Linked DNA regions of Homo sapiens: region 1 is linked to region 2. Evidence: fine-mapped expression QTL. A gene starts in region 2. The other region holds a variant in brackets. All regions are shown on one strand. Distances are from middle to middle. Region 1 overlaps DCLK2 (doublecortin like kinase 2). Region 2 holds the start of DCLK2 (doublecortin like kinase 2).

The links.
Region 1: its variant is fine-mapped to the expression of DCLK2 in prefrontal cortex (CommonMind, PIP 0.95).

What each region holds. Positions count from the first base shown.
Region 1 is chr4:150,247,100-150,263,095 of GRCh38, reverse strand. It overlaps DCLK2 (doublecortin like kinase 2), which reads right to left. Exons shown (of 16, transcript NM_001040260.4): 13 at 15,397-15,493; 14 at 14,711-14,791; 15 at 13,412-13,528; 16 at 5,658-7,076. The coding sequence ends at 6,849. Among named protein-coding and RNA genes, the nearest start is that of DCLK2, 180 kb to the right of the region's middle. The variant G/C (reference allele first, on the strand shown) is at 6,820.
Region 2 is chr4:150,072,461-150,088,456 of GRCh38, reverse strand. DCLK2 (doublecortin like kinase 2) reads right to left here and starts at 10,012. Exons shown (of 16, transcript NM_001040260.4): 1 at 9,009-10,012. The coding sequence starts at 9,429.

The sequences.
Region 1 (15,996 bases), 170 kb before region 2:
AAAACATCGATAGAAACGTGTAGACAACACACTCTCAGATGACAGTGTCTTACTCCCAAAGTACACCAAAAATCAGTGTTTTCATAAATTACTTCAATAAAAGAGCTATTTTATCCATTGAGAAACATCACACCTCACTTCTGCTTAGCATACACAACAGGAAGATTCCAAGTGTCTTGCACAGGAATTACGAGTAGCCGTGAGCAGGGCATGAGGTCAGGAACTGACAACCCGGGGTCGCCCTTTCCACTCGCTCTAAGAGCAGCCGAGCCAGAGGGTCAGGGGCCAACCACACACTTGGTGTCACATGTCCTCCTACACCTGTCAGAGGGACAGTGAGATGGCAGTGGTTGTGTGAGTCAAGCTTGCAGGAGATGGTCAGGGAACCTGGGATGTAGCCACTGCACCTACTTTGTACCCTTCTTAGCAAATACAACAGCTTGCAGCAGCTTAGATTCACCATGAAAGGTGGTTGAGGTAGAGATTTTCAGTAGGTTTCTTTGGTATCTTGTTACTGGCTGTGATCTCAAGAGCTTCCAGCCATGCAAATAAAAGGCCTGGTTTAGTCCTTTCTAATGTGACAGTCCTGCCCCATTCTCCATCCCTGCTAAAAAAGGCAGCTGACCCATGATATAAACAGATTCCTCCTGGATCCAGATGCAGAAGTGTCTTTCATTTAAAAGCTGGAATAAGCCACCACTGAGCTAGGTGGAGAAACTTCACCAGTTCCTGGTGTGTGTTCACTATGGATTAGCCCCATAGCCCCACATGAAATCACATTAGGCCAAAGTATGTTCACAAACAGAAGCAGGATGTAACTTTAGTCTCAAAATCTGCATAACCTATACATGAGCAAATGTGCTAGTGCCTCCACTTGGCTATTTTTGCCCTACCACATGGAAGGAAATCGTTTCCTACTTCAAGCAGAAGAACACCCAGCCCAGCTTACCCCCGTTTTGTGTAGCATAAAGTTGAACCACTGTTAATTCTATAGGCTTCACAAGTTATCCTTGCAGGGGAAGGAGGCTGGGAAGTTTCAAAATTTCCTACTTGTAAGAAGGAAGGGCAAGACCATAAAGTAGCAAATACATAAATAGCCAAACAAACCATTTTAAAGTTCTACTTCCTCTCAGGTGAGTGGGAGAAAAATCTTTTGGATTTTTCTTTTAGATAGACTTGAAAAGTTGAGTCCATGATGAACTTCTTGCATGCTCTATAGTCATAAGATCGCTAAAGACCCAAGACTACTGTTAACACCACTGACACATCACTCCCAGCCCTGGCTGCTATGAACCAGAACCGCAGACTGCTCAGAGCAAGGCACATCACATTTTTCTCTCATGAAATGAAGGGTGGTTTGGCCTTTAGGCAAGCAATTTGTTTTGAGAGAGCTGGGCTCCTCCAGCAAGGTTAGAAGACAAACTGTGAATGCTCCTATGAGATCTTGGTGATCTATGCCAGAAACATGAAGTGAACTATTTTTCTGTCTCAAATTCAGGAATATTTTTCCTTGCCAAAACCAAGATTCCAGGGAGTTGGGCAGGCTTGTCCCTTCCTCATACCTGGCAGGAAGCTGGCTGCTTTGCAGCTTTGGCCTTGGATAATTTGAAAGACATCCCCGGAACTAACTTCAGCCTCAACACAGACAGGCATCCAACCACTCCTCGCAATGCAACAGACTCAGCCCGCCTGATGGTGCTGGAGGCCTGTGGTGCCCAGCTCTGCCCAAATTGAAGGGGCATGGTAGGGGCCAATGACTGTCTCTGTATCAAATATATGCTTTTCTTCCCCTCAGCCATTCAATGCTGGCAAGGCCTTCCCACAGCTGTCTTTGAGTTCAAGGCTTTGTTTTTTATCATAAGATTGCCCCTTAGAACCCCCTGGCCAAGACTCACCAAAGTTGCACATGTCAGCCTCCCTCTGGAAAAACCACTCTCTGACTTTGATCTAAATAAGTGCCCCTGCTCTGATAACTTCTCAGCCACTGACAAAGTGGTAGAAAATGAAGGGTGGTTTGGCCTTTAGGCAAGCAACTTTTTTTTTTTTTTTTTTTGAGACAGAGTTTTGCTCTTGTTGCCCAGGCTGGAGTGCAATGGTGCAATCTTGGCTCACCGCAACCTCCGTCTCCCGGTTTCAAGCGATTCTCCTGCCTCAGCCTCCTGAGTAGCTAGGATTACAGGCATGCGCCACCACACCCAGCTAATTTTATATTTTTAGTAGAGACGGGGTTTCTCCATGTTGGTCAGGCTGGTCTTGAACTGCCTTCCTCGGGTGATCCGCCTTGTCTCCGCCTTGCTGGGATTACAGGCGTGAGCCACGTGCCTGGCCAGGCAAGCCATCTCTTTTGAGAGAGTGGGCTCCTCCAGCAAGGTTAAAAGCCAAACTGTGAATGTTCCTATGAATTCGCACCCCACCTGTGTCTTACACACGCAGCACTCCTAACACATCTCTGACTGCCAAAAGAGGAAACCTTGTCATGGGGCACCTGCCCTGCCTGGGGAAGCTCTTGACCATTCCATTTCCTTATTTATTAGACAAGGATATTAATATCTATCTCTTAGGGCTGTGGCATATCTCAAATGAGATAGGATGAAATACTCCATAAGCTGCAAACTTGTGTGATTGTCATGATCTTCTTCTTTAGAAAGCAGCTGATTCTGTGACTGCACTGCTCTGTTACTAGAATCTTACTCTCACTCTGTCCTTAAATCTGACCTTTTGTGCCCCCTACCTGCTGACCTCAGGCTGACCATCCAGAGCAACTAAAAAAAGGCTGTGCCCCTTCTATGGAGCAGTCCTTTACACAGCCAAAGACATTGAGCAAATGTGCCTCGACTTTCCTCTTACCTCACAGTTTTCTCCACCAGTCCTTGGCTGCCAGGATTCACACCCCCTCACCACTCCAGCTGTCCTCTGTCGGGTGATCATTGCTCTTGCTCTGCACCACATGTAACAAGGTCCCCAGAACAGAACTCCATCCCCAGCTAGCACTGCCTGGGATCTGCGCGTGCTTCTCATAACACAGTTAAGATTATGCTAATGTTCAAGCAGCTGTGTTGGCTCCTAACGACTGGGCGGTCATTGAAATCCTCCAGGCCCAGATCTTCAGCCGTGCTGCAGGCCAGGGCCTTGCCTTGGGTAGTTACAGAATTGAATCACAGCACTTCACACTTCACTTCTACACCGTGGGTTTGGATCAGTATCCTCACCTGCTGAGATCCTTTTAAATGAGTCCATTCCATTAAAAAAAAAAAAACAGGAAAGCATTCTAAGTTGTTATTCACATCATATGCGGGAAAAAAAAAAAAAGGTTAAGAACAAAGACTGAAGCTGCAGCATGGCAGCCACTAACCACGTGGCTGTTCAACACTGGAAATGTGCCCTGTCCAAACTGAGACATGCTATAAATGTAAAGCACACCAGATTTCAAAGGTTTAGAACAAAGAAAGTAAAACATCCTAGTGATTTATGTTGATTACATGCCAAAATAATACTTTGGATGTATTTAGACATATTAGGTTAAATAAAATATACTATAAAAATTAATTTCACCTGTTTCTCTAAAAAATTTTTTTAACATGATACTAGGAAATGCTGTCTCCTGTGGCTTGCATATTTCTGTGGGACAGCAAACTGTTCTAGAGATCTTTCTCCAAGACAACATCAATCAGCACTCCTGCTTTCAACATGGTGAATCTGTCCTGAGCTGTCTTCACCATCTCCTAATTCACATTTCACCATTTTAGCCATGAAGATATTCTGGGGGAAGTTTTGCCAAATGCCTTCAATTTATATATTCAATACATTTCTATCATAGCAACCTTTCTGAAAAGAGAGGGTGAGAGGAAGAGAGAGAAAATGAGAGGCTGAGACTCGGCCCGGCTCAAGTAAGGGAATCAACATGAAACAGTTCATGCCATTCTCTCTGTGCAGGATTTGAGGAACCCAGCAGTTTTAAGTACCTGTATTTAATTTAGATCCTGAGACAGAATTACAGCTTAATAAATGTTTGCTAAACAAGTGGGCAGATGAACAATCTGCCTGTATCAGAACCTTTATTTAGCTCCTCCCCTCCAGGCCTTGATTTAGCCATGGATAGACAGGGTCACCCCCGCCCCGCCCCCAAAAAGAACATGCACTTTAGAGTCAGCAAAAGCTAACACTGCATCATGGCTCCACCTCCTGCCAATTCTATTACCCTGGAGGTGTGACTTGACCTCTTGGTTTGCTCCCCTAGCGCCACATACTTCTGTAGGTTTTCCTGGGGTCATAACCATTTTAGCAGGATGGCTAGGCAGTGCCGCCCCTGCCAGCTCATGCTACTTCCGGTCTCCATCCTTACAGAGGGCGGAGGCATGTACCGACAAGAAGAGGCTCCTGCATCCTGACAGTGACTGGCACTGGCCAGCCACTTATTTTGCCTTTAGCAGATGTCTTTCTTTGAACCTCACAGTTCAAGGGAGGGAAATGGGTTTGGGGCTCAGATCAGTGCCAGAGGCCTTGTTCTATCGCTGTTTGCATTTTTCTCCTTCTTCCTTTTATTAGCTCTTCCCTTCCATTAACAAAAATATTTCTATTGAAAGCTATGAAAAAGCTTGTCCTGTAACCAAAGAGGAGGCACAAGCAGAATGTTCTAGACCTATACATCACTGCTTTTTTGAAACTGTCGTCCTCCTGTAGCCTGACCCTGCTACAGCTGTGGGCCTAGGAAGCCCGCCGCCCGCTCCCCCAGCCCGCAACCCACCGCACCTTGTGGCCAACCTCTGGACCTGATCAGGGGTCAGCACCAGCCCAGAACTCATTGTATCGCCTGGCCCTTGAGATTGACTCATTCCTTCAGCAATCTGAACTGGAAGATCCAGAGTCAAGTTAGATGGTTTCAAGCCCTGGGATTATAAAGCCTTGAAAAGTTGCGGACAGAGGCAGTACCAGGGTAACCTGAACCACAGGTAAGTGGGTACTATGAGGGGACAGAAACAAGAGTCTTGCAGAGAAAGCTGTAGCTGACAAGGCACTGGAAAAAGCAGAGACAGGAGACCACACAACCTCAGAGAGAGACAGGGGAACAACTGCCCCAACTCTCTGCCCTTCCTGCTGCTGCTTCATAAGGTTCCTCTGTCGCACACCAAGCACACCATTTGTTCTTGAGCTTTTGTGATGTGTCTTTTTTTTTGAGGCAGGTTCTCACTCTGTCACCCAGGCTAGAGTGCAGTGGCACGATCTCAGCTCACTGCAGCCTCTACCTCCCTGGTTCAAGTGATTGTCCCTCCTCAGCCTCCTAAGTAGCTGGGATTATGGGCATGCGCCACCACGCCCGGCTAGTTTTTCTATTTTTAGTAGAGATGGGGTTTTGTCATGTTGGCCAGGCTGGTCTTGGAACTCCTGACCTCAGGTGATCCACCCACCTTGGCCTCCCAAACTGCTGGGATTACAGGCCTGAGCCACCACGCCCATTCTGCACCTGTAACCAGACAAACTTCAACCAAGATTCATTTCCATGTGTGTTCTCCCCGAGCTTCCTCTTTTCCCCGGGTGGCCCTGAGACTTTGCAAAACAGCCACTGGCACCCGCTGGAACCCGGGCCGAGGAGGAGAACTTTGCTCCCATACATCCTTAGCCAAACAACAGCACAGAAACCTTTGCCCATCCCTGATTACTTTTTTTCAAGAGGGAAAAGTTTATTGCAGGTTGGGGACACTTGTAAAAGGCAAAATCTAACAATGAGAACGAACTATAGGGCTCGCCAGTTTAGAAGATGAGCAGGTAAAACAAATACACGGATTATGTACAATTATTAAAAAGAGCAGGGTGGTGGACAAAAAGGAAAAACTGCCAGCAGCCTTCCAGAAGGTTCACAGAGTATATCCAGGGAGCACCTTCCCGCCCAGTCCTGGCTGCCTCGGGCATGCCTCCTCCTGTGGTTACCTGCCCTGCTCCAGATGAAATGCAGATGAGGAAGCAGCTACCGGGGCTCAGGAGCAGAGCTCATTCTGCTCGGCAAGTCGCTGGCTTGCAGGGAAGCAGCCGCTGGGTGCCGCATGCGCCAAGCCTCTCATTAAAAAGCCCAGAGGGCAAGTTCACGGGCATTTCCTAACACACGTGTGGGAAGAGCTGGGGGAAACCCACACCGCCCAGGGAAGAAGTGGCTTCTTCCATCGTCTGTGTATGAATGAATACTGAGCATTGTCTCTGGGGAGCCTGGTGCCCCAAGCCGAATGGCTGAGCCCGCCGCCCTGGGCCTCTGAGCGCTTCTCAAAGCCTGCAATCCGTGTCCAATGACCAAATTGTCCTCTCAGGCGCTCACTTCTTCTATTAGAAAGCCAGTCCTCTTAGCCCCCATATCACCTCTCACAGGACACCCACAAAAGGACAAATGCAATTCTAAGTCTTTCGTAAAAAAAAAAGAGAGAGAGAGAGAGAAAAGAAAAGAAAGGGAGTGTTCTGAGTCTACTTAAATAAGGAAAAGGCCTTGGTTCATCCAAAGTGTTTCCAAAGTGTTTCTATAAAAATGCATCGAATGCTGGAATAAAGTTGCACATTCTCCTGGTGAAGCTGTAAAATGTCCAACAAACTGAAAATGACGGGATGATCTGGAACGAGTCTCTCCGAACAGCTGTTGGCAGAACGGATGCAGCCTTTGATGCCTCCAGGAACCAGAAGGCAGAGCCCAGAGCACCAGGCCAGGCTCCGGCACGCCAGGCTCCGGTTCCCAGGCGGCCTGCGGAGGACCCGCGAACTCAGGCGCAGGCGGTGAAGAGAGGGAGGCCTGCAGCAGGGAGGCCGGCGAGGCCGAGCAGAGGGCTGGCTTCCTGGGCTGCA[G/C]CAGGCGGCTTCGCCCGTCTGCAGGAGGCTCAGTCTCGGTGGCGGCGCCAGGTTCCTGCCCGCTCACCACCCGGGGCAGCGGGAGGAGGGTGGGGGGTGGGAGATTCCGGAGGGGTGGGGGCCGGGACTGCTTCCCCAGGCACAGGGATCTCCTCCACTGAGGGAGGAACTGGAGAGATGGGCTCCATCCCAGGCCTGCCGCTGTCTTGACAGTGCTTGCTGCAGAAAATCTGCCCCTCCTTATCTAGAGCCGTGTTCTGAGGAGGAAACAGCAGAGACAACACATTACCCGGGCCCAGGCTCGGGTCCCAGCTGCCACGAGCAGAGAGCACAACAGAGCATGCACGGGCCTCAGAAACAGAAGAGGAGAAATAACGCCAAGCTTCTAACAGAAGCCTCACAGGAGAGTAATGGTTTCGGGAACCCACCGGGGGAAGGGGCTGTCCTTGGCCTCTGCTCCTACCCTGACCCAGGCTGGCAGCCCAGGACACACTGGATGTCTGTCGTCTTCTCTCGCTTTGGGCTGTGCCTGGGTTCTCACCCCTTCAGCCCAAGCCCAGACCTTAAGCTCAAAAGAATTCTGAGACAATAAGCAAACCTTACAAGGGTGCTCAGTCTTGGAGAGTTTACTCTTCCAAATAAAGCTCTCTGTCACAGATTGAAAAGTTACCCGCATGTCCTGTGAATAATTAATCCTCCTAACAACCTGAGATGCTGTGAAGCCTATAAAAGGCCCAGGAATTGGATGGAGCCACATTACTCTTTTTTCAGATCCTCCATGATATCCTCACCTGTCTTCTCTTCACATGAAGCAAAGCTTCCTTATCCTGAAACATCCTGAAAGTTTTTAAATCTGCTCAGCTCTTCAAGGAACAGAGAAACAGCCACAAAGATGTGAGGCAGTCACCTTGCGTTCTAAGCCTGGCTGGGGAAGGGACCCCGGTCCTGCTTTCTCCTTCTCTATTTCCTGCTTGTCCAGGGAAGCCCATCAAGCTGCCATCTCAATGGGCTTCCCAAAAGTGAAGGAGATGGCAGTTCCCAGGCACCTTTAGCTGAAAGGGACAATTGCCAGGAGGCCTTTTGTAATCTAACTACCCTGGGGAGGGAGAGGGGAAAATGCACTAAAGATTCTTTCAGTACTTTAACAACAACAAAAAAAGTCTGGAGAAAATAAGAATCAACAACAGGGCTTTCTAAGATGAACTTGGGTGGCGGCCTTCAGGGCACCTGGGGCCACCTATGGAATGGCTGCTTCTCCACAGGCCCTCACAAGTTCAAGCTGAACAGTCATCCATTTCTGGCCGGGTGCAGTGGCTCACACCTGTAATCCCAGCACTTCCGGAGGCCAAGGAGGGAGGATCACTTGAGGTCAGGAGTTTGAGACCAGCCTGGGCAACACAGAGACTCCATCTCCACAAAGAATTTAAAAATTAGCCGGGCAAGGTGGCGTGCACCTGTAGTCCTAGCTACTTGGAGGCTGAGGCAGGAGGATGGCTTGAGCTCAGGAGTTTGAGGATACAGTGAGCTAGGATCACACCACCGCACTCCAGTCTGGGCAACAGAGCAAGATCCTGTCTCAATAAACAAAACTCCCCAAATCCCTACAATTTCCAAGGACAATTTCAACTACCTGGAGAAAGGGTAACTGTGGAAAACTCCACTAAAAGATGCTCCCACCTACATGGGAAGCAGAGAGCCAGCATACAGGTTTTTCCTACCACAAAATGTCTCCTGGGTACAAGAAAACAATCCCCCCGTTATTTCTCCTTTTCTCTTCCTGTCAGAAGCACAGGGGCGTGTGTGGCAGAAGGCAGGCTGGCAGTGCGGTTAGTACATACCATGGCCTTGGACCTAGCCAGAGGGAAGCAATGCAGGCGGCGGGAGAGGCAGAAGGCAGGAGAGAAGCAGGGACAGAAACTAGACTTACTTTCAACAGAAGCAACACGAGTGAAACAGTTTTGTCTATCTTAAATTAAGGCAATAAACCCAAATCCTTCCCCAACTTCCCCCTGAAACAAGGCATAATCCCCCAGCGAAGAAGGCAATGCCCTTGAATCCGTCCCTTCTCAAGTCTGCACCGCAGGCGCCGAGTGACGGCGGCTTCTCGGCATTCCCTTCCCACCACAAGATGGTCTCTCCTGGTCTCTGCAACTGGGGCGAGCCCCCCGGGGTACATGGGAGGCCGTCCTGCATGCACCCTGCTCTGTCCTTTCTTACGCATGCTAAGGACAAGTCCAAGAAAATGGGAACTGTAATCCCACACCTCAGCCCTGCCTGAAACCAAGGCCTCACCCATTAAATTATCTTCTCTTATCCCAAAGGCTGGCTGAGATTACACTTACTGATACAAACTCATCTTTGGAAATGCAGCTGGAGAAAGAACAAAAGCCTTCACGAAGGCACCATCTTAAGCTGCTCTTTCCGAAAAGCCACTTTTCACCTAAGTGGGAAACAGCATCGGTAGGAGAACTATGGGACTCCTCCCGTGCTCTCACCAGCTGTTGGTCTGGAAAGGCAGGCAGTGTGGTAAGCTGAGAAGTTTGAAAATAAAGTTTTCCAGGGGCCTGCTTGGCTGGCTGGAAAGGATGTGAGTAGGTACAAAAGACCCACACCAGTAAGCAGCTGAGAGCCGGACGGCGGCATCAGAAACTGAGACAAGCATGCAGGCGTGAGAGGGGCTGAGGATGGGGCGCGCTGGTCGGACGCAGCGTGGTGAATACCAGGATTCTGCTTCAGGCTCTCCCACTGTCTCAGCGGGGTAAAGAAGGAAACTCTGAGGTGCCTCTCAAACTGTCAAATCAAACTGTCAAACAAAATGCAGATAACACCATCAACTTTACTTTTTTTTCACCTTTATGGACCAATTTCTAGCCCATCATTTTCTCACTGAAGTCTCAGGCCCCAGCTCTGGGGATGAGAACACTAGGGTGACAGCAGATGGGAAGGTCCTGTCTGTAAGTTATCTGATGATTCAACCTCCAGACGGTTGACACTATTTCCACTATCATTTGTATCTGCAGAAAACCAGGTTGGCCCCACAGTCTCAGTTATGAGGACCTATGAGTACCAGGGAGAGTCATTTTGAGGTTATTTTTAATGTAAAAACACTTAAAACTGTTCCGAAGACAGGACACACAGTGACGTGAGGAGGATGAGGAGGATGAGGAGGATGAGGAGGACGAGGAGGATGAGGAGGACGAGGAGGACAATACAGCAGCATCGCAAGTTCCCCCACACAACCATGCCCCAGACCAGGTCCTGCGCCAGGGGAGGATCAGCAGCAGGCCTTCCCCTCCCACTTTTTGGGACAGCCCAAAAGTCACAGGCTGGTGTTTTGGCCATCGAGAATGGGTGCCACCAGAGGCAAGACTGATTGAATTTCCCTGTAGGTACTGAATGGGATCATGACATCAGCAGTTCCTCTGAGCTAACAGCCTGCAGAGTTGTGTAGGTAACATGGGGTTAGAGGGGACACCCTGCCAACATGCGCAAAATGACAACTGAACACACATAAACATACAACATTTACAATCACCATCAGAGCTGCAAACAATAACGGGTTGTTTGTTCACACAAACACCCTGTCAGAGCCCAGGGGTTTGTCTTTTGAGTCCTGAACTCCTCATCAGCAAATGGAAAATGGTATTTGTAAACCACACGACATAGGTTCTGTCTGAGGGGGTCTAAGCGTCATTATCTAGGACAGAGCCTGTAGAACAGCTAATCATTCCAGAATGTCAGCTGAGAGCCAGCCATAAAGAGGCCGGGCACAGGCCTATGGCCACTGATTCCTATCTGGGCCCCTGAGTCAAAAAGTGACCCCAGCAATGACTCCCTTCACAGTCTCCGAGCAAACTCTCCTAAGCCCTGGGCACAGGGCGGTTAAAGGTTCTTCCTCTCAGAAGACTTAACATGGTTATTAAATTTTGATCCTAACCAATCTCTCTTCTTAAGGTTTTTTCATGACACGTTGAGTATGCCAATTTTTAATGTTTTATTTTTCTAAATTTTCCAAGAAGCTGCCTTACAACGCAGTGCACAGCAAGACTGTGTACCACTGAGCCCATCCATCAATGCTAGCTCTCGCAAGGGAATCGCTGGAAACATTCTCATGCTGTTGGCTCAATCAAGATGGTTCTTTTCAAAGTGTCTAAGCTGTAATTCTTTGACAACTCTGACTTTCTCAGGCTTTCAGCAAAACACTGCTAAAATTCAAGGGAAACCACAACTCAAAAGGCCTTCTCACTGCTTTGGCACAGAGCGCCCCCAAAGTCCTGCAAGCCATCAAAAGACTCAGCTTGCAAACCCAGGCTCTGTCTGGAGAGGGAGAGAGGGAGAGAGGGAGAGCACACTTTCTGGCAGGGGAGCAGCTGGGGAGTTGCAAGGACACACAGAGGGTGGCCACATAAACGCAGCCGGGGGACAGAAGAGAATGACGGCCCAGTGGGTGCTGAGAACCTGGTGGACGCTCAATCCATATAACAGAGTGCTGCATGCTCGTGGGGTGTGTGGGGTGTGTGGGGAATGTGGGGTGTGTTCGGGTGTGGGGTGTGTGGGGGTGTTGGGGGTGTGTGGGGGTACCTGGTGTATGCTCAATGCATATAACAGAGTGCTGCACGCTCGTGGGGGCGGGGGGTGTGGGGTGTGTGGAGGTATGTGGGGTGTGTTCGGGTGTGGGGTGTGTAGGCTGTGTGGGCTATGTGGGGGTGTGGGGTGTGTGGGTGTGTATGTGGGGGGTGGGGGTGTGGGGGGTGTGGGGGGTGTGGGTGTGGGGTATGTGGGGGTTATGTGGGGTGTGTTGGGGTGTGGGGTGTGTAGAGTGGGGGGTGTAGGGGATGTGTGGTGCGGGGGATGTGGGTTGTGTGGGGGTGTGGGGGGTGTGAGGTGTGTGGGGATGTGTGGTGTGGAGGGTGTGCGGGATGTGTGGTGTGGGGGATGGGAGTGTGTGGGGGTATGTGGGGGTGTGTGGTGTGGGGGGTGTGAGGGAATGTGTGGTGTGGGGGGTGTGGGGGATGTGTGGGGTGTGGGGGATGTGTGGGGGTGTGGGGGATGTGTGGGGTGTGGGGGATGTGGGTGGTGTGGGGGATTTGGGGGGTGTGGGGGATGTGGGGGGTGTGGGGGATGTGTGGGGGGTGTGGGGGATATGTGTGGTGTGGGGGATGTGTGGTGTGGGGGGTGTGTGGGGGTGTTGGGGGGTGTGAGGGATGTGTGGTGTGGGGGATGTGTGGTGTGGGGGGTGTGAGGGATGTGTGGTGTGGGGGATGTGTGGTGTGGGGGGTGTGAGGGATGTGTGGTGTGGGGGATGTGTGGTGTGGGGGGTGTGAGGGATGTGTGGTGTGGGGGTGTGGAGGATTTGTGGTGTGTGGGGATGTGGGGGGTGTGGGGGGTGTGGGGAGTGTGGGGGATGTTGGGGGTGTGGGGATGTGGGTTATGTGTGTGGCTTCCTTATAGCTTCTATCTAGACCCTGCGTCTTCCTAGGTAAGGCTCTCAGACAACCATGTACCATGAGAATATGCCACTGTTTCCCTTCTAGTTGGGTAGGAAACAAGGAGGACCTTCCCAGAGGATGAGAGGCCTGTCCCAAGTACGAGTGACGGAGCTGTGGAGGTGGCCCATCCTTAGCTGTCAGGACTCAGTGGGGTCACGGGGGGCCCAGATGTGAAACTCAGACGCCCATCACCTTGGCAGGTCTGATTCGAAAGCTGCTGCAGCCAACTCCAGCTCTGGGAAAGGCCACTCCACCCCTGTTCCCTGCTCCTGGGAGTGTGTGGGGAGAACCAAGGTCCCTGCCTGGGTGGCTGGCTGGCTTCTACCTGCTCACGGTGAGCTGGCCTTCCCGCCCAGGGTTGCATTGGCTCAGGCCTGGACAGCTGCTGCGGGTGTGCTGCCCTCACCTCTGGTTCAATGTTTTTTCCTTTTGATTCATTTACTCTCATGTCACTTTTCATTTTAATTTGTTGTGTTTATGTATTTAGGAGAGTTGCCTTAAGAAACATTTTGGAAGAAGAAAAGGCTGAAAAAAATAAGGCCATCGTTGTCACTGACATCTCATAAAATGTTACCAACCCTGAAAAATGAATATATATTTTTTTCCTTGATTATGTACCTTTAAAAGCCCCAAACTGTGTTTTATAAAACACTGATTTTTTAAAACTGAAATATGTTTAGCTTTGGCTGTTTCTTATCCCAAGTCTCAAAGAATAATTCACATCTCTAATAATCTATTTCTGAGGCCTTGGGGTAGGCAGGGAGTTAATTCCTAACACAACACACCCCTCCAGGGCTTGGGAGTCTCTCTAGATGAGAAGGCAGAGACAAGAGTGGAAGCAGCTGCCCAGAGGGCCCAGCCAGGAGCTCCTTGACGCCTGGACCCCTCACACCAGGCCTGCTGGTCCCTACACAAGCCCCTCCACACAGTGCCCAAAGCCTGGGAGTTGCCGAATGAGTGCCCTCCACATGCCAAGCCAATCTTCATATGAAATAGGACTACGGAAGGCACCAACTTCCATGTGAGGGCAGCTCCCGGCTACCTAATTCAAAAACTTCAAGGCCGGCTCCGCAGTCAGGCCAGACCTGCCGCCTTCCACTCACCATGATGACGGAGACCCCGGTGGTAGTGCTGTTCTGTTTGGGGAGCGCATTATTAAAGTGCTGTTTTAGTTTACCTGTCACCTCAGCTTGCATGTTATTCTCCTGGGAGGCATCATCCTACAGGAAAGAAAACAATCAAATACAATGCTTTTTCCATCCTCCCGTTTGAGTTGTCTTTTCCTTAAGAGTCCCCCTCCCCGCCTCAACCACCCTCCTGACCTCTTCCTAAATGGGCCCCTCTTAGCCACAGAATTAGGGAAACAATGATCTTTCAAAAATAACTATTGTTATTCAGTAGGCCCATGCCCTCAGAAAGACCCCACACCATTCCCTCTGCCCCTCAGGACTAGAGTAGGCCCAGGAGAGGGCACAGGTCTCCCGGGACACAAAGCAGGACACACTTTAGGCTACTGAGACCCTCACCCAAGGCACACGATTTAGTATGATCCCTCCCATGGAAGCATCAAAGATCATTGTTTTTCACTTTAATCAAGAATTCATTTAGTTGTTAGTCTTTATTGCTTATAATAAAAAAAAATGTGGTATCTTAGCTACTTGGTCCAAGAACCACGTCATTTAGCCCAAGAGAGCAGCAAGCAGGGTCCAGAGAAACTGCACCTGGATGGTGGGTGGGTGGGGCATTGGAGGTACACAGGGAGCTTCCCAACCGGAGTCAACAAAGCCCTGGGCTAATTAAACTAACTTCACTCTCCTGGAGCCTCCCAGAAATGACGGAAATGGGAGAAATGTAATTCCCACAGTCCCCATTTATTGGATCATGTTTCCCTCCCAGAGACCACCTGAGCCTCTGGGAGGGAACTCTAGTCAATATCATGTGTCTCCACTCAGCTCTGAAGCGATCCTGTCTCAGCCTCCCCATCAACAGCAAGAGGTCTCCTGAGAGCACGTTCCCTGAAGGCACAAAGGTCAGGGTCTGAAACAGGCTCATCTCCAGGGCAAACCCTGGAAACTCTCAAACCCCAAACCGCAGAAGACGAGAGCTAAAAGCCTCCTGAAGGAGCACTGTGGCCAATTCCATTTTGCAGATAAGGAAACTGGGGCCAAGAAAGGGACAGTGACTTGCCCAGGTGACTCGCGGGGCAGGGTCTAAGACTGGGACCCTAGTGCCAACTGCTTTCTTGGGGAGCCATCTTTATGCTACTTGCTCAATGGGACAGACAGACATCTACCATGGAGCTTGGATGCATAACTTTTGCATGTGCAAACATCACAGTGAGGAACCGTGCTGTTGGCCACAGAGCACAGTGAGGCCCATTCCCTGGGAATGTGGGTACTTACTGACACCCAGGGGTGACTCAGGATTTGTCCCGCGGTACACCGAGCTTCAACATTTACCTGAAGCATTTGACTGATTAATTCCTACAAATAAACAAACAAGTCAGACCACAGAGGAGGAGAAAGGAGGTAATTCCAGCATAAATACAGAAATCTGAGTTTGTGGCAAGCACTTCAGAGAAGAGCCAGCACAGCTGCTAACTGATTCAAACCTAAACGTGATTATACCTACTCTCCTAATGCCTTATAAGCAGTGCAAAAGAAAAGACAGTCTCTCCTGAGTCCATGTGAAACTAAGATGTTTTCACCTAAGAGTTCTGGTCATTGTTATTATTCCACAGTCTAAAACTGCAGTATTTTTCCTTTTGGCAATTCAGTGTGTTTCACAAGTTCATCCCTGTATCCTGATGGGTGCCCAATACATATTTCTTGAGTAAATGAAATAATGGATGTTGAGAACTTAGAGGAGCACAAGAGGATGGAGGGAAACTGGAAAGATGGCCAGTCCAGCTTTAAGAATTTGGCCAAGAACTTCAGAGACCATACCATGGGATAAACTTAAAAGAAGAACCACACATTAAAAGCCAAGGAGCTTTCTGGAATGCAATACCTAGCGCAGCTACAGCCCTGTGCAATGGGTGAGGACCCCACAACGTAATACAACCCACAGAAACAGGCCTGGAGGGTACCTTGGCAGAGTCCGTGATGTTATCCCAGTAGGGGGCCGGAAACTCCAGCTTCCCAGCCAAGATCTGGTCGAAGAGATCTTCCTGGAGATTGTTCTCACTAAGCCAGTGACAAAGAAATGGAAGAAAAGTCAAAGTCACCGTAGAATTTTTCAACAAAATGTCCACAGGAAGAGCGGGGAAAGGAGTCCAGTCTCTGGCTTTGACTTGGGCATTCCGTATCTCAATTATGTATCTCAATTCCATTTGTAATGACAGAACTTCTCCTTTTAGATAATGAGCCAAAGAACATTTCCATAGGCCGAGGAATTAAAGAGACAGAGACAATGACTCAAACATTTGCTTAATGAATGCAGAGTTTCGGTTTGGGAAGATGGAAAAGTTCTGGAAAGGGACGGTGGTGATTCTTGCACACAATGTGAATGCATTTAGTGGTACTGAACTGTACGCTTAAAAATGGTGAGAATGATCAATTTTCTTATGTATATTTACCACACACACACACTCAAGAAAATATTTGAATCCACAAATAATGGAAATCCTCATTTTGGGGGGAAAAAAATCAGTATCTGCCCTCAAGCTGTCATGGCAACAAGAAAGGAA
Region 2 (15,996 bases):
AAAATCTGAAGGCTGTCATATATAAGCAGAAAAAAAAAGATATATATACGAAAAAAAAAAAGCTGAGGACCACCACCATTTATCAAGCAGCCACTGCATGCTAGGACTCTGCTAAATGTTTAAATACATTGTAAAATTTAGGTAGAAACTTCCAGAAACTGGCTTTGATCACTAAACTAATAAGAGACAAGTTTACACTGTACTATTTCTCAAGTTCTCCCACACAGGCTTAATGAACAACAATATAACCAGTAATAAGTTTCTAGAACGCCTTTTTTCTTGATTCTTCAGCAGATAAGGCAAAATACTATTAAGTAAAGAGACCAAGATGATGAGCAAGGACATCAGGGGAGAGACTCTCAATGACTGCCTTTGAGAAATAACTGCATCTGTTGGGGCTCAGAAAACAATACCCCAAAATGAAGGCCCAGTAGCATCCTCAGAGGCAAACGTTTTTCTCTGATCTTCTGCCGCCCTCCTGGCTGCTAGTCCCATTCACCTCCAAAGCTAGCCATAAAAACTAGAATCCCTCTTCTCCAAGGAAGGTCATAGAAACCCAAACTCTTTTCCCCCAAAGCCAGCCATAAAATCTAAAAATATTACTCTAATTTCCCCTTCACTTTGTATGTAAAAACTGGCTATAAAGAAATGATTTGACCTACCTGGTTTGACTGTAGGTCACAAGACCCCCATTCCAGAGAGGGTCCTGCCCCACACCCAGAAGAAAGGAATGTTGCTCACAGAGGCCAAGAAGAATCTAGACAGACAGGCCTTGCTGGGTGTCCAAACTCAGTCTATTAACATTAAATCATGCCCTTTTGTCCAATCATATTTCTACAGGGCTGTCCATACTTTGTTGAATTTAGGCATAAAAATGGACAACTTCCCCTGTATCTTTGGGTCTTAATTCGGATGGCTCCTGTGTATGCATGTTAAATAAATTTGCGTGCCTTTTCTTCTATTAATCTGTCTCATCTCAGTGATTTTCAGCAAACCTCCTTGGCCTCCTCACATTGCTATTTCAAAAGTTAACAAAGTAATCTGAAGTTTTAAAAACATATAGTGAAGGAAGAGATCAATGAAAATATTTTAAAACATCTATTGTGAACATTTTGCATTTTGGTTGCAAGTAACTATAACAAATAAACAAAAGGTAACAGAGTAGGTCAAAATTGCAGATTATTTTAGTCACTTAGTTTGAAATGTCAGTAAATGTTATAGTGTAATGAAAAGTACTTAGGGCGACCTCACCAAACCGGTATTTTACCATTCCTTTAGTCTATAAGGAAAAGCTTCTGACAAATTACAATATAATGACTTCTCCTTTAGGCTGTTGAAAACACGGCAAATAGGACAAAATATCCCGGGGATTAGGATTGAATTATAACATGTTTTAAGGAATAAAAGAATATTCATTTAAGCTCTTGATTTTATTTCTGACTCACAAAATTAAAAAATTAAGATTGTGTTAAAATTAAGCATGAAAAAATTAGCAAAAACAATTGCTTAAAATGAGAATGCTAAAGATGAACACAACTAAGCCTTAGCTATGGCAGAGAACTCCTGTAGACACTGAAAATATTAGCGGGCTTAGAATAATCCTGGGATTTAAACACATAACGAGAAATAAATATGAAAGAATCTGGTTGTGGGCCGGGCACGGTGGTTCACGCCTGTAATCCCAGCACTTTGGGAGGCTGAAGCAGGCAGATCACGAGGTCAGGAGATCGAGACCATCCTGGCTAACACGGTGAAAACCCATCTCTACTAAAAATACAAAAAATTAGCAGGGCGTGGTGGTGGGCGCCTGTAGTCCCAGCTACTCGGTAGGCTGAGGCAGGAGAATGGCGTGAACCCGGGAGGCGGAGCTTGCAGTCAGCCGAGATTGCGCCACTGCACTCCAGCCTGGCAGACAGAGTGAGACTCAGTCTCAAAAAAAAAAAAAAAAAATAAAAAGAATCTGGTTGTGATAGCTGTCCAAAGAGAAAACTCAAGTCAGACATCTCAATCTCAGATACTAGTGAAATTGATAACTTCTTGGGACATAAATATACTGCATCATTTTTCTTGAAGAAAAATATATTAAAAAATTGAAACACAAAGGGGCAAGGAATATTTGCCTTTAACATGAACTTATGTTACCTCTGTAAATCTGGCTAACTGTCCAACTGGCTATCTTAATAAATAAAGGTTTTTTAAAGCATCTACATCCACCTATACCCAACTATTAAAACATCTTAAATAGGGCACAAAAGTAAAATTAATTAAAAAAACACCACGTGCCAGAAGCATTTGTTTCATGGGATAAAAGGATAAACAAGACAATTGTGGTCCCACCCCCTGTTGGGTTTGTAATTTTCCCTTTCACGAGGATGGTCTATGGAAAAGATCCTCCTGTATGTTACTGAGGTGTTTTAAGAACTCCATCTAAATCTGGGTAACTACATCTGATCAAGTACCCAGCCAACTTTCAAAGAAAGACATGGAGCCAGATAGAGCCAAAATCATTTCTCTTTCCCACCCCTAGAAGCATTTCCCAAGATCACTGAACTTTAGAGGCGAAAGAAGACTGTATTAGTCCGTTCAAGTCGCTATAACAAAATACAAAAAACAGAGTGACTTATAAACAGAAATCAATTTCTCACAGTTCTGGAGGTGAGGACATCAAAGATCAAGGTGCTAACAGATATGGTGTGTAGTGAGGGCTCTTGGTTCACTCATGGTGACTTCTCACTGCATCCTCACATGCTAGAAGGGGCAAAACAAGCTCTCTGGGGCCTCTTTGGGCACTAATCCAGCCTATGAAGTCTCTGCCTTTATGATTTATTCACCTCCTGCTGTGGGTTGAACACATCTCCCAAGCTTCAGGTGTTGGAAATTTAATTGCCATTGTAACAATATTAACAAGTGAGGCCTTGAAGAGGTGATTAGATCATGAGGGCACCACCCTCAAGAATGGATTAAAGCTGTTATTGTGGGAGTGGGTTAGTTATAAAAGGAGGGAATTTAGCCCCATTTCCTCTCTATATATCCTACGTTTGCTTTCACCTTCCACCCTTCCACCATGGGATGACCCTCAACAGATGCCAGTGCCGTGCCTTGGACTTTCTAGCTTCTAGAACTAGAAAATAAAATAAATTTTCTTTATAACTTACCTAGTCTGTGGTATTCTGTTATAGCAAGAGAAAATGAACCAAGACACCTCCCAAAGACCCCACAAACAGAATGGACTCCATTTCCTCTCAGGTGGTAGAATGTAGTAGTAGAATGTAGTAGTTAAGAACACAGAGTTTCAGAAGCCAGGGAGAAAGGGCTCAAGTGCCAGCTCTACCTCTTACATTGGTACAATGCAGCAATTTCTCTACCATCTCTGAGCCTCAGCTTCCCCATCTGTAAAATGGGGATGACAATGCAGCCATATTTCAGAAGGTATTACAAGGGTTAGATGAAATATGTAAAGTACCTCACACAATGACTGCTCATAAAACATCTAGTAAATGGTAGCAATGCAGAGAAGAAAAGCATCTCTAATCCTTACGGTAATGGTTTACTTTACGAGTAGAAGACATAAAAACACAGATGCAGTGGTAGCATGGGCAGGAAGGGATACAGAAAAAAGACCTAGCCAGGCGGTACACACCCCGCAGCAACTCCTCTCGGCCTCACGAGCAATGAAGAAAGCAGTTAGATGATCACTGCCCAAGAGAATCTGGTTTCCTTTATTTCATATTACAGGACCATAAAAATATCCTTTTCCATAGTTTAAAAACCCATTAGATATTAATCTTGTCTTATAACTTCCAGAGTATCACTGTGTCATACTCTAATCTCATAAATGCTCTCTCACATATCCCCTTTCCTTCCCCAACCTTTTAGGATTTATTCTTTAAATGAAAATTTTCCTCTTACCTCGGGAAAGAGCTTCTTATGCAGCTGTATTATAGCACATCTTATTTTCCTTGTTTTTAAGGAAATGAGATGGGACAACCAGATTTATAGAAGGGGATATTATGGAAGAGTCATTCCCTCCAAAATGGTTAGCACAGAATTTCACCCAAAATTATACGTTTATCTAACATGTAATCCAATTTTCCAAAAACATATATTTTCACAAATATCTAGGAATCCCATTAAAGCTTAACTCATACAAAACTTCCCTAGACAACTAAGGGACTTAGAGGTAAAATCATTGTCTGAGTTATTTAATCAATGAATTTACTGTATTTAAGATCCCTGACCTCAGGCTTCTCTCAGTTGAGTGCAAAAACAGATCCAATATATCATGAGACTACAAAGCTAAGTGTTATAATAGAAGTAAAGAAAAATGCTGTAAGCAGAGGAAAGTTATAAACTTGACCTCAGGCCTCGGCTCCAATGTCTGTTCCTCTAGGAAGCCCTCCACATCACCCCGGCCAATATGGCCATCCTGCCCCATGTCATCACCACTTCATTTACAGCACTTTAGCTGAAGCCATCTTGTTTGTATGTTTACTGTCTCTCTCCCAGGAGAATGTGCATTTTTTGAAGGAAGAGACCATAGGCATTTGACCATGTCTAGGACATAGTATGCCCTCAACTAACCATTTGAGACCAACTGCCCAGAGAAGTGGGAAGAGACTTCATAGGTGCTATTTGAAGTGGGCCTTGAAGAATCCAGGGGTTTCACAGGTAAAGAACGTTTTGCAGCCCTGAAATTCAATATTAACTTTCCAAGTCCAATCACCATGCATGACTTTAGTGTGCATCATTTTCGACTCCTATGTGCAAATACCTTGTAACTCATGAGTTTATTTCCTTCTTACCATAATAAGTTCCACAGTTTCTATTATTATAAAATTTATTTTTCAGGAAAAAACAACTAAGTATAATCTAGGTTCTTATGGAAATTCATTTTTACTTAAAAATTCTCAGAAACGTATTTTGGTTTATTTAACACTTTCAAAGAACTGACCTAACCAAACAGATGCGGTAGATAGGTTTGGTAGGAGGACCTCAAACTTCATGGGCTTGATTTCTTTACAATCTTATTTTTCTTACATGTCCCTGTTAACTTCATGAGGGAATGAAAGTATCATTATCAAAATAACCAAAACTCTCTCATATGCCAAAAAACAATCAGCTTATTGTTTATGAAGGGATAAAAGGTAGAAATAACAAAATGACATTTTATTTTGGAATGAGAGAGGCAGACACAGGTAGCTCTTAATGCCTTTGACTCTTGGCAAGCACTTCATCAGAGATATACACCCCATTCTGTGATTGTTATCTGGACATGTGCAGCCTCATCGATTTTCTGGAAGATGGGTTCTGGCTAGGGAATGGCAGCCCAAGCCATCATATGCTCCAACAATAACCCCTCAGATAATTAACGGGTACATACACATTTTTAAACCAGAAGAGACCTAACTTAGGTGGTCTGCCAACTTCTCATCCTAGAGAAAAGGATGCCAAGGCCAGGGAAGTGAGGTGAAATTTTTCTCAAATCTAGTCAGTAGAACTCAGGAATCCTGACTTGGTCAGGCACTTTTTCTACTGTCCTTGGTTATATCTCTTTAGGTCATCAAAACTTTATAAATATTTCAAAATGCTCAGAAGGAGAGAAGACCAAACGCTCAGAAGGAGAGAAGACACACGGAACAGAACTAAGACTAGGAATTCTGAATCAGTCCCTAATAAGAAAGCTAAAGAACAAGTCATCTGGACATTCTCTGTTGGTTATTACAGATACTGAGCTCAGCAGGCTCACAGCTTAAGACAGCTCAACTAATTTTTCCAATATTGATTAAGAGCCACAGTCCTGCCGGAAGAGGTCCCCCAACTAGTTTTAAAGAATAAACAGGATTACAGGACTGCACAGCATCAACTCAAACTTAATCCAGCAAGGATGGATAAATCAATAAATTGAAGGTGCTTGCTGGTTTAGTGTAGTGCTGGAGGAGTGCCAGCTCACACTAGAACAGCTTTTAGTCTCCAGAGACTCTCAAGGTCAAGGGCAGAAGAAAAAATAATTTGGGCCATGCAAATTTCTTTTGTCATCTGAGTTCAATGAGATTGGGGCTCTGAATGAATGTTCATATCCTACTGTTTTGAGTCATCACTTTCTATTCTTCACTCAAGACATTTCAGAAAAAAACATACCTCTTAAACTACAAGTTTCATGGGATCGAAGAAGTAGAGCCTAGTTGAACATAATGTTGTAAAATACTACCTGAGAGAGCTTTATTAAAAATAATCAACCAAAACGAAATAAAGCAGTCAATTTTGACAATGTGGTGAATATATTACAGACTTATTTTTACTAATGCAAATAACTTCACAGATAGCTGCTTAGTTCTCCTACATGAAAAATCTGAGCACACAATTTTAATTAAAAGTTGAAACTACTTACATTCTGGAATGATTGACAGTAAGCATTCGTGATTCTTTTTCTTTTTTTCTTTTCTTTTTTTTTTTTTTTTTGAGACAGAGTCTTGCTCCATCGCCCAGGCTGGAGTGCAGTGGTGTGATCTTGGCTCACTGCAACCTCCGCCTCCTGGGTTCAAGCAATTCTCCTGTCTCAGCCTCCTGAGTAGCTGGGACTGCAGGCGCCTGCCGCCACACCCGGCTAATTTTTTTTTTTTTTTTTTAAGTAGAGATGGGGTTTCACCTTGTTTGTCAGGCTGGTCTCGAACTCCTGACCTCAGGTGATCCACCCACCTCAGTCTCCCAAAGTGCTGAGATTACAGACGTGAACTATTGTACCTATATTTTCTTTAAAAAAAAAATTGCATTGCTATGGAGTATTCTACTAATTTGGGGGAAAACTGAAGAATTAAACAAAGACCCATTGTCAGAGAGAGTTCCATATGACAAAAAAAGTGTCCAAGTTTTCTTCTTTTGCAGTAATTTTATTGTATTAAAAACTTCTTCAAAGAAGTGGGCAAAGTCATAAAAAAAATTTTGGCTGTGCAACTATTTGTTATATTATTTATCATATTTTGGTATGATTTGGACTCCATAGATAATGTTTTTTCCAAATCCCCATCCACTAAAAATCAGTGAATGATTTGAAGGAAATTTGTTAAGTCAATTTGTAGTTGAAACTACAGTTGCAGAAGTAGACCCAGTGGACATGCATGCGGTGGGCGGTAAAAGACGCAATCTATACTAAGTACTCCTATTAATGGACATGCATAATGTCCATCTTATCATCTCTCCTATGAGATTCATGTTTACGTTATGTCAATTTTATGTAGTAAATCCACTGTTAAAATTTCTTTAGAGAAGGATATTAACATTGTTGACTCTTAAGAAACCATACCAGGAACAGTAGTATCCCAATGGCATGTTGAGTAACAAGTGCTTAAGCAAACAGGCATTGCCTTGATCCTGCAAATCTGATCTTGGGTCAGTCAAACAACTGGTTACTCTGTTTTAAAATAGCTAGGCAAATATTGCTTTTAAGTGTTTAACATGATTAAGAAAAGCAACAAGGCCCTTTGAACATTGTATCTTCCTTTTTTACTTATACTCCTCCAGCTATCCCCTTACCTCCTCAAGAAGCCCTTAAAACCAAAACACACAACTGACAGAATGGGTGAAGTCACAAGCACATACATATGTAGACTGAAGAGACAATTTAATTTTGGCTGGGTCGCGTTCTAGGCAGGGCAGCAAAAACTTCTGACTAAATAGACAAACTCAACGACCTTTAGTTTTCCTCCATGTGGCTCCATTAGCTCAGCAGAGGTGAATCGTAGACGAGAAAGTATATGCTGCAGGCACTGTGAGGCAAGGCATGCTGCCTAAGTTTCCTCATCTATAAAATGGGGATAATGCCTTCAGGACAGAAAAGCATGCTGAGATAATATAAGAAAAACATCTGGCTTGATGTTCAGCTTCCTCTCCCTGCCAAGCTATTGCTATGACTACATGGAATGTGCCATTTGCATTAAGAAAGATGCACAAGAGCGGACTGTATGTAAACACGCAGTCAGCACATACCTGGGTTCTGCCTGGTCTTTCTGGATGTTATTTAGAACTGGAAACAGGTTCTTAACCACTGATAATGCCTTTTCTACCTGAAAAGGATGAGGCATACGTATTGCAGGAATTCAAGGATGACCCAACATCCAGCCAAGCAGTCTCTTTGACCGAGGCATGGTTGACACAGCAGAATTACTAATTTTTAATAAGTCCCCACTGCTGAATCCAATGGCCTCTATCATTCTAATTAGGTACTCTTATTAGAGGATAAGGCTGGAGAGATTGACCTTGATTTACCTTTTTTCCAACCAAATGTGGAAAACCCTTTAGCACGGTGATTGTTAACCAGGGTCCCACATTAGAATCACCTGGGGGGGGGGCTTTTGAGACTCCAGACGCCTAACCCACACCCCAAACCCAACCAATTTAATCAGGATATCTGGGGGTTGGGGGATCAGGGTCCCATATTTTTCGAAGTCCCCAGTGTGATCCAAGATGAAGCCAAGGTTGAGACCTGCTGTCTAGGATCATCCCTCTTCACCTCAAGTAACTTCTGCTGCAAGGCAAACTAGGAAAGCCAACCTAGAGCATTTCACAACCACAGCTTCTGACAGCAGTCACAACAGGACCCCGAATACTGGAACATGACAGGAGCCTGCACCAGGGTCCACACCGAGGGTCCAACAGAGCTTATTAGTAGGGGATTACCCAGCTCCCCATGGGAGAACCATTTTCTCAAACAGTTTGCACTTCAATACAAATAAGTTCAACAATCTTAGGAGATGCCACCAGTGCCTAAATTGGCCTGACCATCAGGAAATTTTTTCCTTCTTTAAGAGACAAACCTCTTGGGAAGGAAAGTCAGTGTGTATGTGGGCACCCCACCGGCCCCCACCCCCAGCCAATCTCTAGAGAAGCAGACAGAAGCATCAATTCCCGTGCGGCTTGGAAAGCACCCCGCGGGCTCCCCGCTGCGCCGGCTCACGCCCACTGCACCTGCCGGCGCTCCGCCGCACCTGCCGTGCGGCGCCCTCCCCTCCTACCTTCCAGCAGCTCGTCCAGGCTGGTGACCTTCCGGCTGCCGTCGATGGTGTAGATAGTGCGGACACCCTGGGGCAGGTTCACGTTGTCCGACAGGGAGCGGGTGAGCTCTATGAGGAGCGCATCGAAGGACCGGAAGCGGTCGCTGGAGATGGCAAACACCAGGCCCTTGAAGTAGCGGTCCCCGTTCCGGTAGAAGCGCGCCTTCTTGGCCTTCTTCTCCGAGCTGAGGGCCTGCAGGGTCCGCGTGCGGTAGAAGCTGCAGTGGGCACTGTGCGCCGGACTGGGGATGAGCCCGTTCCCCTTGGGGCCCGAGCTGCTGCTGCCCCCGGAGGAGCTGGGGGCCCCTCTCCGCGACCCCGGCCGCGGCCTTTTGTCCCGTTCCTCAAAGTGCTCCAGCTCGATACTCCTGGTGCTGGCCATCGCGGCTGCTCCGAGGGCGTCCGCAAAAAGACGTTCCGGGCCGACTAAGGGTGCGAGCGCCGGTGCAGGGACGTCTGACTGCGAGGGCCCTTAACGCGCCGGGACACCTGGCTCTGGCATCCCGCCCTCTCCGCGCAGGTGGGGCCGAGGAGCCGCGGAGGAGCCGACCCGCCCGCGCCCTCAGCTAAAAGTGTCCGCAGCGCCGAGCTGCCCAGGTCATTGTCCAGTGCGACTTGCTCCGTGCCTCCCGCCTGCCGGGGAGCCCCACGCCCCCGCAAGCGCCTCCTCCACCCGGCCACGCCTCACAAGTCCCGCTCGGGAGCCGACCGGGAGAGGCAAAGTTGGGCCGCCCGAGGCTCGCGCTGGGCCCGCGGGCGCCCACAAAGCTCGGGCGTCTGCCGAGCGCTCCCGGGAGCGCCGAGGGGAGGAAGGAAGGAAGGGTGGGGCGGGGCGCGGAGCGTGGGAGAGGCCCCCGGGGGAGTCGCGCGGGCCCAGGCCCGGGGTGCAGCGCCGCCGCCTCGGCCGCGCCCGGATCCCGCCCGCCGGGCAGCGCGCGCCGTTCGGGGCTGAGAGGGCCGTGTCTGGCCCCTTCCTTCCCTGGAGCGCGGCCCTAGCGGGAAATAATGCAGCCCGCCTCCCACGCAGCGGTCAGGCCCGGCCCACTGGCAAGCATCCGCGCTCTGGCCTCCCTCCGCCGCCGACAGGCTGTCAGCGCTGGAGGAGGCTTCCCGGCCCCGGGGATGCCAAACCGCGGAGAAGGGGAGGAGGGGGCGGAGGAGGGGGCGGAGGAGGGGGCCGAGCGCCGGCGCGGGAGGAGCAGCTCCTGCGGGTCCCGGGCAGCCCCGCCCGCCTGACGGCTCCTGCCCGGCGCCGCGCGTTAATGGGCGCAGCCGCGACGCGCGCTCCTCCGCCTGGGAAACGTAACCGCGCAGGCCAAAAACTACAAAGGAAGGAGATTCAAGGGCAGGGAGCACATCCCCAGCCAGCATCCCAGTGAGGACCCCAGGCCAAACTACCGCAGAAATCCGAAGCCCAGCATTGACTTGGGGCACACCATTCATTTTTTTTAAAAAAGATTTGTTGCTTTATTAGAAAATCCTTTGAGAAAACAGCCTCCACTGTTTCCATTGCAGATTCGCTAATATGGTACGTTCAGTAACTTTGAATGAATGATGAGAAGTTATTGGGTGGTAGAGGGGGTTATGTAATCAACGAATATTTATCGAGAGCGTACCATGTGTCAGGCATTGTTTCTGTCACTGGGATGCCCTAACAAAGGAAAGAGAGACTCTGCACCCACTCCCCCCGCCCCGCATATTTAATGTTGTCAATTAAAGCTTCTTACCTAAGAGGCCTATCATTTGTGAGCACCCATCATAGTGGAAATCTTAATGCCGTAGTGTCTATTCAACAATAAAAACATCTTTTCCAAGACTTAAGAGAAATACTAGTTACTTGCATTTTGTTATTAGGAAAAATAAAGCTCAAATATGTTTGATCCCAATTTGGCACGTGAAACCTTAGAACATTCAACACCTGGTTTTCTGAGCAGCCCTAGACAGCAATCCAAACTGACCTTTCAGGAAGAAAGGCATAGTTGCTTTTTTTCGGGTTGAACTGAGTCCTGGAAGAGCATGAATAAAAGAAGGTAGAAGCACATGCAACGGTCTAGCATCTGTGAAGTTGGTGCGCCCCACCAAACACACGCACACACACGCATACACACCCTTCATGGCAGCTCCAGAAAGGTCTCCTGCTCGGTGCACAATACTACTCCTAAGGCAGTTCTGGGCATACACCTGGGCATACCTAACTTCCTGCGGGGTTGGGGCATGCTAGGAAGTCAGAGCTGATCTGAGGCTTCAATGTAGTTTTTCTAGAGGAAAATCCTGCAGCATCATTAGGTCCACCACCTTAAAAGGCCTCAACCTAGATCAGTTAAATCAGAATTTCTGGAGACGGGCTTCTCCAACAGTATTTTTTTAAAAGTACCCCTAAGGTATATCCAGAGTTTCCAACCACAGGCTGTAACACCAGGAATCAAATAAATCAGTGCTTCTTCTCAAACTTTAATATATTTACATGTCATAGGGGAATCTCGTTAAAATGCAGATTGCTATTCTGTAGCTCTGGGGTGGAGTTTGAGATTCTGCATTTCTGATGAGCCCCTGGGTAATGCCAATGCTGCTGGTCTTGGTACAAGACTTTGAGAAACAAGAAACTAAATTGCAAATTTATTGAGATAAGTTTCCATCTAAGTACCAGTAACTCCACAGAGCCCATCAACTTGCCTTAAGATGGCCATGTTCATTTGTATCACTGTTAGTATTTCTTAGGGGGAAAAAGACTTTGTAAACTATTGCTGTAGAAACAAATTATCCTAAACTTAATGATTTACAACAATAAACATGCATAATCTCAGCATTTTTGGCAGATCGGAAATCTGGGAGCAGTTTACCTCAAAGCCTCATGTGATTGCTGTCAAGATGTTGACAGGGGTCACAGCCATCTAAAGGCTTGACTGGGTCAAGAAGATCCATTTCCAAGACAGCCCATTCACATGAATGGTAAGGAGGCCTCAGTTCCTTGTCATGAGTACCTTTCCATAGAGTTGCTTAAGTGTCACCATGACTTGTCGGTTGGCTTCCTCTAGAGCAGGGGTGTCCAATCTTTTGGCTTCCCTGGGGCACATTGGAAGAAGAATTGTCTTGGGCCACACAGGAAATACACTAACATTAATGATGGCTGATGAGCTAAAAAAAAAAAAAAAATCACAAAATCTCATAATATTTTAAGAAAGTTTACGAATTTGCATTGGGCTGCATTCATAACTGTCCTGGGCTGTGTACAGTCCACAGGCCATGGGTTGGACAAGCTTGCTCTAGAGAAAGCATCCAAGAGAGCACAAGGTGGAAGCCACAATGTGTGTTATGATATAGCCTTGGAAGTCATACACTGTTATTCCCACAATATCCTGTAGGTTACACAAGGCAGCCCTGTTTGATGTGGGAGGAGACTACACTAGGGTGTGACTAGGAGTCAGCAATTATTGGGGTCATCTTGCAGACTGGTACCACGGGTTTCAATCTTTCAATCTTTAGAACACTAACATGCACTTCCTCACTCAAAGATCCTTGATAAGAGATTTGGCCCTTCTTAAATAGTGAGTACAATTATACAATATGCCAGTATTTTTAACTCAAGGTGGATTAAAGACTTAAATGTAAAACCCCAAACCATAAAAACCCTAGAAGAAAACCTAGGCAATATCATTCAGGACATAGGGATGAGTGAGGACTTCATGGTGAAAACACCAAAAGCAATTGCGACAAACGCCAAAATTGACAAATGGAAATAAAGAGCTTCTGCACAGCAAAAGAAACTATCACCAAAGTAAACAGTCAACCTACAGAATGGGAGAAAATTTTTGCAGTCTACCCATCAGACAAAGGTCTAATATCCAGAATTTACAAGGAACTTAAACAAATTTACAAGGAAAGAAACAACCCCATCAAAAAGTGGGCAAAGGATATAAACAGACATTTTTCAAAAGAAGACATTTACATAGCTAACAGACATATGAAAAAAAGCTCAACATCGCTGATCATCAGAGAAATGCAAATCAAAACCTCAATGAGATATCATTTCATGGCAGTCAAAATGGTAATTATTAAAAAGTCAAGAAACAGTAGATGCTGGCGAGGCTGTGGAGAAATAGGAACACTTTTACACTGTTGGTGGGAATGTAAATTAGTTCAACCATTGTGGAAGACAATATGGCAATTCCTTAAGGATCTAGAACCAGAAATACTATTTGACCCAGCAACCCCATTACTGGGTATATACCCAAAGGAATATGAATCATTCTGCTATAAAGACACACACACACACGTATGTTTACTGCAGCACTGTTTACAATAGCAAAGTCATGGAACCAACCCAAATGCCCATCAGTGATAGACTGCATAAAGAAAATGTGGCACATGCACGCCATGGAATACTATGCAGCCATAAAAAAGAATAAGATCATGTCCTTTGCAGGGATATGGATGAAACTGGAAGCCATCATCCTCAGCAAACTAACACAGGGACAGAAAACCAAATGCCCCATGTTCTCACTCATAAGTAGAAGTTGAACAATGAGAACACATGGACACAGGGAGGGGAACAACACACACCAAGGCCTGTTGGAGGGTGGGGTACAAGGGGAGGGAACTTAGAGGACAGGTCAATAAGTACAGCAAACCACCTTGGAACACGTATACATGTATACCTTTGCACATTCTGCACATGTATCCTGGAATTTAAAGTAAAATTTAAAAAAATAAAAATATGCCAGTATTTTAACATTATTCCCTAACATTATATCCTTAAGTTAAAGAAAGGTTACTGCTTTTCAACAGGGGTAGGGGGAAAAGAGAAAGTATTTCCAAAGCTGTTACTTAGTTAAAAAATGTTTTTTTGATCCTACTCTCCACACTTGTTTTCTTGAAGAATCTTATTTGTGATCCTCTTATAAGAATTGAGATGCAATCACTTTTCATAAGGTATCTATGAAAAAATATGATATAAAGACCCAGTTGGTCAACATTTGAAGATTTGTTGAGGTAGGAAAAAATTAGTTTCAGTATTCAAATTCTAATGCAAACAAAATTTGTAGGTTCTAGGTAGGCAACTATTACTTAACTTGGCTTACTTCATGATATTCAATTTATAGAACCGAAGCAGATTTTTTTCCTTTCATGCAGTTGCAGAATTTGCAGAGTAAGACATTTTAATGGGCATTTTCTTTGTTGAGATACTCATTTTTTTCTAACGAAGAAAGGCCATCTGATTATTAATCATTGGTCCTTCCAGAGATGGTCTAATTCTCTTGGTGGTTACAAGATCCACCAACTCTGTCTGCCACACCCTGATTTAAGGAGCTTCTTTAGGAAGAGCTGGCCACAGATGCCTCCTCACTATCTGGAAGCCCACTTTAACCTTAGATGTCTCTTGGTTGTAAAAAGTGTTGTTAGAAAAACCCTCTTTTTAACTCCCCTTAACCTAACACTTACTTGAATAAAAACTTTTGTGCCAAGTATTTTTAAAAAGGCTTCATTTTTCTGCTAAAGGCCATTGGAGAATTTCAGCCCAAAAACTCTTCTCCCCTTTTTGTGTAACTAGAAATGACCCCTTTTGCTTTTTATTTATAATACTTATAAATCATGGAATATCTAGTGGATGTGAAAATTTTGTTGGCAGTATGCAAGAAGGGTCTTCTACAAACCACTTGGGGCAGAGAAACTCAACTGGGCATAAAGGAAAAGAAATTGTTCTCTTTGTTCTCTACACTTCTCTTTGTATCACACACCTGTGATACAATTTTAGAGCTGCTTTTAGCCAGGTAGTAATTCCCTCTCCTGCTTACTCCCTCAACCCCACTCCACCTTGACTAAGAAATACAATGCAAATTTTTATCTAGCATAATTTGTTTAAATGAGACTTTATTAAATATTTCATTATGGGTCTTTACATAAGAAACTTGCCTTGAACATTTCCTGGTGTTTGCCTCATGCTGCTTTATTCCTCAAATGCTATGGTTAGTCTTCACTTTTGGCAAGAGACTTCTGTTTTTAAAGGCAGTTTTCCAGTGACTCCATTACTTATTACATAAAGGATGCCTCTGAACCTTTCAGATTGCACTGTGCTGAGACTTTTTGCTGTCTCATGTTTTCATTCCTGTTCACTATGTGCCAAGAATTTCTCCCAGAAGTAAAAAATGATGAAATAACTAAACTATTTTAAGTGAGAGCACCCGGTGACTATAGACTTAAATTTTTGAAACTAAGCATGATTCTCATTTCAATCTTAATAATTATAAGTTCTAGTGCTTTCTGTTAAGCTTTAATGGGGAAGGGTATAAGGTAAGGCAGCTCAAAAGCAGACTCTCCATCTCTACCCCATAATCTGTACCTAGACTGGAAAAAAGGCTCAAACTGTTTTCTCAATAGTTCTTCTGCCTTTGGAGCTTCGTTGTCCTTTTCACCCCTGATTCTTGTAGCACTTTACATAGATATTAATGATTTCTTCACAAATAAGTGAGGGAATAATTGAAACTACCTTTTCAGGTTCAAAAAATTTGAATGTACCTGTTTGGTTAAGTCTTTCAGAAAATCTAAATTTTGGCTTGTGGCTCATGCCTGTAGCCCCAACACTTTGGGAGGCTGAGGCGGGAGGATCACTTGGGCCCAGGAGTTCAAGACCAACCTGGGCAACATAGGAAGATTCCCATCTCTACAAAATATTAAAAAAAAAAAAATTAGCCCGGCGCAGTGGTGCGTGCCTATAGTCCCAGCTACTGCAGAGGGTGAGGTGGGAGAATTGCATAAGCTCAGGAGGTCAAGGCTGCAGCAAGCTGTGATTGTGCAGCTGCACTGCAGCCTGGGTGACAGAGGGATGAGACTCTGTTCTTGAAAAAAAAAATTGTAAGTTTAATTTTTAAATGAAAATATCAGAAGAATTGAAGAAAATAATCAAATATGCATGCTTTAAATATATATGGCACACAACTACTGTTTTTTTCCA